2 separate regions of the Homo sapiens genome follow, and region 1 is linked to region 2. Evidence: fine-mapped expression QTL. A gene starts in region 2. The other region holds a variant in brackets. All regions are shown on one strand. Distances are between the middles of the regions. Region 1 overlaps LILRB2 (leukocyte immunoglobulin like receptor B2). Region 2 holds the start of LILRB4 (leukocyte immunoglobulin like receptor B4).

The links. PIP is the estimated chance that this variant, and not a neighbour inherited with it, causes the effect. A credible set is the group of variants that fine-mapping cannot tell apart.
Region 1: its variant is the best candidate, but not a certain one, in a credible set for the expression of LILRB4 in whole blood (TOPMed, PIP 0.61).

What each region holds. Positions count from the first base shown.
Region 1 is chr19:54,270,055-54,274,446 of GRCh38, reverse strand. LILRB2 (leukocyte immunoglobulin like receptor B2) reads left to right here. Exons shown (of 14, transcript NM_001080978.4): 14 at 1-635. Among named protein-coding and RNA genes, the nearest start is that of LILRB2, 8.9 kb to the left of the region's middle. The variant G/A (reference allele first, on the strand shown) is at 2,204.
Region 2 is chr19:54,660,404-54,664,795 of GRCh38, reverse strand. It overlaps LILRB4 (leukocyte immunoglobulin like receptor B4), which reads right to left and starts at 1,811. Exons shown (of 12, transcript NM_001278426.4): 1 at 1,729-1,811; 2 at 1,229-1,264; 3 at 758-1,042; 4 at 311-610. The coding sequence starts at 1,762.

The DNA.
Region 1 (4,392 bases), 390 kb after region 2:
AACTAAAATCAGAAGTAAGAATGTGCTTTAAACTGAATCACAATATAAATATTACACATCACACAATGAAATTGAAAAAGTACAAACCACAAATGAAAAAAGTAGAAACGAAAAAAAAAAACTAGGAAATGAATGACGTTGGCTTTCGTATAAGGAATTTAGAAAAAGAATAACCAATTATTCCAAATGAAGGTGTAAGAAAGGGAATAAGAAGAAGAAGAGTTGCTCATGAGGAAAAACCAAAACTTGAAAATTCAACAAAGCCAATGAAGCTCATTCTTGAAAATATTAATTACAGTCATAAATCCTAACTACATTGAGCAAGAGAAAGAAAGAGCAGGCACGCATTTCCATATGGGAGTGAGCCAGCAGACAGCCCAGCAGATCCTACACACATTTTCACAAACTAACCCCAGAACAGGCTGCAAACCTATACCAATATACTAGAAAATGCAGATTAAATGGATGAAATATTCAAAACTGGAGTTTACATAATGAACGTAAGAGTAATCAGAGAATCTGACTCATTTTAAATGTGTGTGTATGTGTGTGTATATATATGTGTGTGTGTGTGTGTGTGTGTGTGTGTGAAAAACATTGACTGTAATAAAAATGTTCCCATCGTATCAACTCCAGTTCAGGAAGTTTCACTGGTGATTTCTTACAAATATTGACGCACTAATGAAACACACAAACACACCCAGAGCATCACAAATGTTTCTTGAGAATAGAAAAAGAGGCAATGTGCCCGGGTGCGGTGGCTCACGCCTGTAATCTCAACACCTAGGGAGGCAGAGGCCACAGATTACTTGAGGCCGGGAGTTCAAGACCAGCATGGCCAACAAGGCAAAACCCCATCTCTACTAAAAATACAAAAATTAGCTGGACATGGTGGCGCACGCTGCAATCCCAGCTACTTGGGAGGCAGAGGCAGGAGGATCACTTGAATGAACCCGGGAGGTGGAGGTTGAAGTGAGCAAAAACAAACCCCCTACAATTCAGCCTAGGATATGTTTATTAAATTTACATTTGTCTTTTTGCTTAAGATTGCTTTGGTATTCATCCTCTTTTTGGTTCCATATGAATTTTAGGATTTTTTTCTAATTCTGTGAAAAAAATGATGTTGATATTTTGATGGGAATTGCATTGAACCTAAATATTGCTTTGGGAAGTGTGATCATTTTCACAATATTGATTCTGCCAATCCATGAGCATGGGATATATTTCTATTTTGCTGTGTCATCTACGATTTCTTTCTGCAGCATTTTGTTGTTCTTCTTGTAGAGATCTTTCACCTCCTCAGTTAGGTATATTCTTAGATATTTTTAATTTTTTGCAACTGATGTACAAGGGATTGAGTTTTGCAGCAACCTGGATGAGCTGGAGGCCATTATTCATGACACCACATCCAGCTAATTTTTGTATTTCTTGTAGAGATGAGGTTTTGCCATGTTGCCCAGGCTGGTCTTGAACTCCTGGGCCCAAGTGACCCGCCCGCCTTGACCTCCCAAAGTGCTGGGACTGCAGGCATGAGCCACGGTGCCTGGCCCATCATAGCACTTTTGATCATTAGGATAATTCCTTCTCCTTGTCATTTTTGGACACATGCTTCCCACATGCCTCATCTTCCAGAGAGGGTTTCCACCAGGGCTGTGCTGGGAGTTAAGGCTGGAAAAGGGGAGATGGTTCCACCTGCCAGTGCCACATGAGTCTACTCAGGGCTGTAACCAGCAGGGAGGGTCCAGTGTGAGCCTCAGACTCGCATGTGGGACAGACGCCCATGTGTGACAACGCTGCAGTGAATCTGTTTCACACACATGGAGGAGGCGGCTCAGGGCTGACCATGGACCTGAGTCAATGAGCAGAGATATCCCAGTGCCATCCACAAACACAGGGGAGAAGGAGCCACAACTTCCCACTTTCATCCAAAACCCCGACCCCTCCCTGTCTGTGAGGGCCCTGGGGTTCTCCTCTGTCTCATACAGAGGCAGAAACCTCCCCCTTAGTGACCCCCAGCTTTGCAAGTCACCAGCAGCCCCTCGGCGCTGGCATCTTCTGCTTCTTAAGGTTTCCTGCCTATGACAGGAAGTCTCATTTCTCATTTTCTTCATTGGACCATGGCTACATATTTCAGACACATTATAAGTAGGTTTTCCCAGTGTTAGGAGCAGATGTGGGCTGTTGAGCACATAAGTCACTCACC[G/A]TGACTGTGCAGTCCAACACCAGGATCCACTCATGTTTCAACCCCCAAGACTTAACCCGGTCTGGAAATGTACCATGACTGAGGCCCTCCCATGACCCAGGCACCACTGGCCCCCAAAACCACTCAGGAGGGGGGTTCATGACAACAGGCTCCAAATGAGGAAACCGAGGCTCAGAGATGGGACTTACTGCCCAAGGTCATGCACGCAGGGATGAAGGTGAGCAATTCAGAAAAAATTAACTCCCTATCCCACCCCCAAATCAGAGCTCAAGACAAGTACTTGTTCCCAAAACCTTGAAGGCAGACTGAGATGCAGGGGAATGCCCAAGGAAGCGGGGCTGGGGGTGGGAGGGACGCCAAGGAGGCAGGAATGACTCAGAGGTTACTTTTAAGGGAGGGGGACCTGAACACTATTAAAAAAAATAGGAAGAAAAAAAAGAAGGGAAGTCTAAGAAGGAAACTGGAAGAAATAAAACCCATACTCCAAAGACAAAAGAAGAGTCAGCATTTCTTTATTTCTCCTTTTTTCTTCTCATTGCCAATTGCAGCTCAACTTGAATTTCACAGCCCGATGTGAGATGCGTCTCTGCTGATCTGAGCCTGTCCTGCAGCATGGACCTGCAACTTTCCTGAAGCATCTCCAGGGCTGGATGCCATGGTAAGGATCCCGCAATGCTGTGTTGATGGACAGGCTGAAGGAGGGAAGAGGACCCCACAGGGAGGCTCTGAGAAGAAGAACAAGCCCCCACTCACCCTCACTTGGACAGGACAGACTCAGAAAGGTGCTGGGTCTATCGGCTCCTACGTCCTGACCCTTGATGAGATGAGGACAGATGAGGCAAATCGCAGAAAAGGGTCAGGGAGATACCATTTCTGTATGAAGTATCTGAAGACAGCCTGGTGCCTGCCCCAGTCCCAGCCTTGGGGAAATGAAAGTCAAGCTCCCGGAGAGGGCAGTTCCCCTTCTTTTGGGGCTGATGACGGGACAACCTCGTGATGGAGAACCCAGGTTCCCAGTAGATTTACTCCATCCAGGAACGGTGGCCTCATCCATCTGCACAGCTGGGGGCTGTGGAGGAGACGCCATGACTCCCTCCCACAAACCTCTGATCTGTCTTGATAAAATTGAAAGAGGGAGAGGGGAGACTGTAGCCTGGAAGGAATCCCACCTCACAACTTGGTCCTGATTGAATAGAAGACCCCAGAGGTTCACAGAGATCCCAAGGTGGGGAGGATCTGCCCAGGGTTCAGGAGGCGAATCTCTCTCAGGAAGCTCCGTGACCCCCTCTCTAGTGTCACTCCTGTGCCTCAGTGGGATTTGGAGAGGATGCCTTAGATTAGAGGGTATTGTTCAGTGGGATTTGGAGAGGATGCCTTAGATTAGAGGGTATTGTGTCTTTCAGCAACAAAACCGTACAAAAAAACACCTGGACATTTCACATCAGTGGATAAAGCATATCTTGTGCCAAATCAGGACCAAACTGCGGTGAAATTTCGGGTTCACACTACAGTTAATCGCCTTTGAGGAAAGCATTCCAGGTTGGTGCCTATCTCTGCGATAAACGTCTCCCTTCCTGGCTACAGGTAATGGATTAAAGCGACACTGGCCGAACAGACACTGTCTTCACCCGATGATTATACTGAAAAATGGCCATAAAATTGTTCCCTCCAAATCCAATTCCCTTTGTGACAACTCTCAAAAGAAGATATACGAACGGTCCACAAACATATGAAAAACATGTATGTGTATGTGTGTATATACACACACACAGCACGGAATACTACTCAGCCACAAAAAGGGACAAAATAATGGCATTCGCAGCAACCTAGATGCAGTTGGAGACCATTATTCCAAGTGAAGTAATTCAGAAATGGAAAACCAAACATCATATGGTCTCATAAGTGGGAGCTAAACTATGAGGATGCAAAGGCATAAGAAGGATATAATGGAATCTGGGGACTCACAGGGAACAATGGGAGGGGGATGAGCGATAAAAGACTACACATTGGGTGCAGTGTACACTGCTCGGGTGATGAATGCACCAAAATCTCAAAAATCACCACTAAAGAGCTTATCCACGTAACCAAACACCACCTGTTCCCCAAAAGCTATTGAATTTTTTTTAAAAAAATAATAAATTAAAATAAATGTACTACATTAAAAACAACAACAAAATGGCAAAAATCCA
Region 2 (4,392 bases):
GGTAGAAGGACAAGAGGAGGGTGAGAGTCTGGGGTTGCCCTTGGGTCTCCACATCAAATTGAACCTCTCCCTATATCTGCCCTGCAGCTTCCCAAGGACCATTTCTCTGTCCACCTGGCACCTTCTGGACCCTAGGTGAGGGAGAAGAGCATGGGCATGCCTGGGAGGGCCCCTGTTGTCCTCCTCCCCTCTGAGGGCTGAGTCCCCCACTGGCTGAGCCCCTCTCCCTCCATCCCTGCCCAGAGCTCTCCTGGCAGCAGGGCATGAACGGAGCCACTGAGCTCAGAGAGGACAGGGTCAGGAGCCTCACCTGAGACTATGAGCTCCAGGGGGTCACTGGGGTGTGACAGCAGGTAGTGGGAGAAGCCGTGTGAGCTGAAGCACCTGTAGGTCCCCCCGTGCACTGAGGTCACAGGACTCATGGGGAATTCAGCCTGGTGCTGCTGAGCTCCGTGCTCTGATCTCAGATGCAGTAGGGGATGGGCTGCCCGCTCCTTGATCAGAAGAAAAGTGTCCATTGGGCTCCGTGACTGACACAGCAGGGTCACGCTCTTTCCTGAGGTCACAAGAGGACTCGGCAGGGCTGAAAGGGTGGGTTTACTGTAGGCTCCTAGGAGAGAAGGAGGCACCGTGTTAAATGGGGCTCCCACCTCCCACATCATCCCCAGGGCTGGGCTGTGAGAGGGAGATGCCCCTGAGAGCTGACCCCCTTCCTGAGGGCAGAGCCTGGGGCTGGGACCCCTGAGTGTCCTCTCACCTGTCATCACCAGCTCCAGGGGGTCACTGGGCTGTGACCAGCCTACAGGGCTGCGATAGTAACAGCGGTATCTCCCTGCATAGTCCTCTGTCATGGATGGGATGGAGAATCTGGCCTTGTTCTTGGGCTCCAGTGGGTTCTGTCTGTCCCAGGGTGCTGGGCTTTCCTCTTTATCCAGACGGTACTCCCGAGCCTCCAGGGTCCCCTGACACCAGATGGTCACAGAGTTCCCCCAGCTGATCACAGAGCCTGGCTCAGCCCAGAGGGTGGGTTTGGGGAGGGGCCCTGGAAGAAAATCAGAGGCTGGATCCCAAGACCTTCCTCAGCCCTCAGATCCCAGCTCTCAGCCCCAGGACCCCCCCGTCATCCTCATCAGTCACCCAGAACTGCTGTCTCCTCCCCCAGCTGCCCATGGGTGGCCCCTTGTCCCAGTGAGGAGGAGGGACCTGGGACAGCTGGGGACAGACTCACCTGCCTGCATGTGGGTCCTGGGGCCCAGACTCAGCCCTGGAAGAGAGTTCCCTGTGAGGGATTTGCCCCGGAAGCCTGAGCAGGTCCTCTCTTTACCCTGAGATTTTTTTTTTTTTTTTTTTTTGAGACGGAGTCTCGCTGTCACCCAGGCTGGAGTGCGGTGGTGCGATCTTGGCTCACTGCAAGCTCCGCCTCCCGGGTTCACGCCATTCTCCTGCCTCAGCCTCCCGAGTGGCTGGGACCACAGGCGCCTGCAACCACCCCCGGCTAATTTTTTGTATTTTTAGTAGAGACAGGGTTTCACCGTGTTAGCCAGGATGGTCTCGATCTCCTGACCTCGTGATCCGCCCGCCTCGGCCTCCCAAAGTGCTGGGATTACAGGCGTGAGCCACCGCGCCCGGCTACCCTGAGATTTTTGAGTCTCCTAAAGAACCAGGGCCTGGCTGTGAGGCAAATTTCCTCCAAGACTCGGGTCTCCCCTCCCCCTCTTTAAATCTCACCGAGGCAGAGCAGAGCCGTGAAGGTGGGGATCATGGCGTCTCCTCCCAGGGGCCCCAGCTGTGCAGATGGATGAGTCCTCAGTGCCGGCAGGACAAAGAGACACACAGGGTGTGGCCGCTTGGAGGCTGGGTCCTTCTCGTCATGGGGTTGTTCCATCAGCAGCCCACAGGAAGGGAAACTGCCCTCATTTGAACCCCAGCCTGGCTTTCATTTCCCCAGAGCTAGGGCTGAGGCAGGCACCAGGTTCTCTGCAGACATTTCAGACAGAAATGGGGTCTCTCTGATCCCAGCCTGCTGTCTGCCTGGTCTTAATTCCTCTCTTGACCAAACATCAACCCGTATGTATCGTGTGTTTGCAAAGCGCCTGACACTGGGGGTACATCATTGAACAAGTGAAAAAAAAAAAAAACCAAAAACCTGCATTTTCAGGGTACAGATGAACCATAAAGCTTCCTTTTGCTGCCATAACAAATCACCACAAGCTTAGTGGCTTCACATAATGTAGGTTTATTGACTTACCGTCCCGGAGGTCACAAGTCCAAAATGGGTCTCCCTGGGCTAAAATGAAGCTGCTATCAGAGCCGTGTCCTCCTGGAGGCTCCAAGGAGAATCTGTTCCCTCGCCTGTTCAAGCCTCTGCAGGCTCCCGCATTCCTGCCTCTCCATTCCCTCCAACCTCAAAGCCACCAGTCCCGTTATCTGCCCCCTGCTTCCATGCACTCACCTCCTTCTCTCACTCTGACCCTCCTGTCTTCCTCTTTCACTTACTCAGCCCCTTGTGATTACATCAGGCCCACCTGGGTAATCTCCCCAACCCAAGATCCTTGACTTAATCACATCTGCAAAGTCCCTTTTGCCACATAAGCTTCCCCAACTCACAGGGTCTGGGCCTCAGGAGGTGGACATCTCTGGGAGGTCACTATTCTGCCTCCCACAGGCCTTCAGGGACTCCTTTAACCAAATCTCACATAGAGCACTTCTCTGCGATGACGGAGAGTGGCTGGGCACGCCAGTCGAATGCTTGGTGGGCCAGTACGCAGCCAGGTCATGGTCGGCTACTCATGTCCCATGGGACCTGCCCACTTGAGGCCAAACATTCCATCTCCACCAGAGCCCGGTAGACATCTAAAAACTGTGTCGCAAAACAAAACTCATTCTCTGCAGCGCTAGCACGATGTAGCTCCAAAATATATATATATATTTTTTCTTTTCTGAGATGCAGTCTCACTCTGTCGCCCAGGCTAGAGTGCTGTGGTGTGATCTCAGCTCACTGCAACCTCCGCCTCCTGGGTTCAGGAGACTCTCCTGCTTTAGCCTCCTGTGTAGCTGGGATTACAGGCACCCGCCACCACTCACAGCTAATTTTTGTATTTTTAATAGAGATGGGGTTTCACCATGTTGGCCAGGCCGGTCTCGAACTCCTGACCTCTGGTGATCCGCCCATCTCAGCCTCTCAAAGTTGCTGGGGTTACAGGCATGAGCCACCACGCCCAGCCAAGCATAGATTTTAAATGTTTTCACAGATGTTAGTATGCGGAGTGATGGACATGTTAACTGTCTTGATTCCATCATTCCACAGTGTATACATTTATAACACATTGTACCCCATAAATATATATAGTTGGTGAATTAAATATTTAGTAAAATTATTTTGAAAAGGAAAAAAGCCATAAATACATAACAAGCAAGCAAAAAGGCCAGATAGCTTCAACCCTTAGATCACTGCCTGTGTAAAACACTTCAGGTGGCCAGCTCTCAATAATCATCCATTTGAGTGGGCACGTCCTGCAATGATCTGGAATTGTAGTCTGTCCTAGATGGTGACTAACCATTTTCTGTCTCTGTTCTTCTTAAAAGGATGAGAGGACCTTCTAACTTTAGAACTGAAACATAGGGTGGGAGGGGAAAGAGGAAGCAGAAAAAACAAACCCCAAATTAATTGTATCTAACGGTCAGGAAGGCAAAGAAGGAGAGGCTTGCAGGAGGCTGAAAGTCAAAGTGCCGGGAAACGCATGAACACCACTGCCCTCAGGTTTCCAAGCACCTGCTTTTAGTACCTCATTCCGTATCCTTTTGGGTCACTCTCAGAATCACGGGACAGTATCTCATTTCGAGGATTTCCATGTGTCTCTCCACATTTGTGTGTAAGGACCTTATTGGAAGCTATTTCAGCCAAAGCTTGATGCGTCTGACAGTGGCTGGGGAAAAAGAAACTCCCAGAAATGGGGGCTAGAAAGCCATACACATATTGGCGAGTATCTCCTGTTTTGGCGGGAAGTTCTGGATGATGGTCTGCACATTATCAGAGATCCTGGTGTGGACCTGTCCATATTACCTGCTGTAGTGGTGTCCGCAATGCATGCTGATTTCAGGAATTCCTCTCCTTCTCTCTTTCATAAGGGAACCCTATTCCCTTAAACTTGGTTCCCAAATCAGTTACCTGCGCTCATATCCTTGTCTTAAGTCCTGCTTTCAGAGTAACCTGTGCTAGGCAAGGACTGGGAAATGCCAGGAGGTTTTTCGATGTCATCACCCCTTTTCTAACCGCTCAACATGCCTTGCCTTTACCAGTCCTGGACTTCTTGTATTTTGCTTCTTTTTTTTTTTTTTTTTTGTGACAGGGTGACACTCTGTCATCCAGGCTGGAGTGCAGTGGTGCAATCT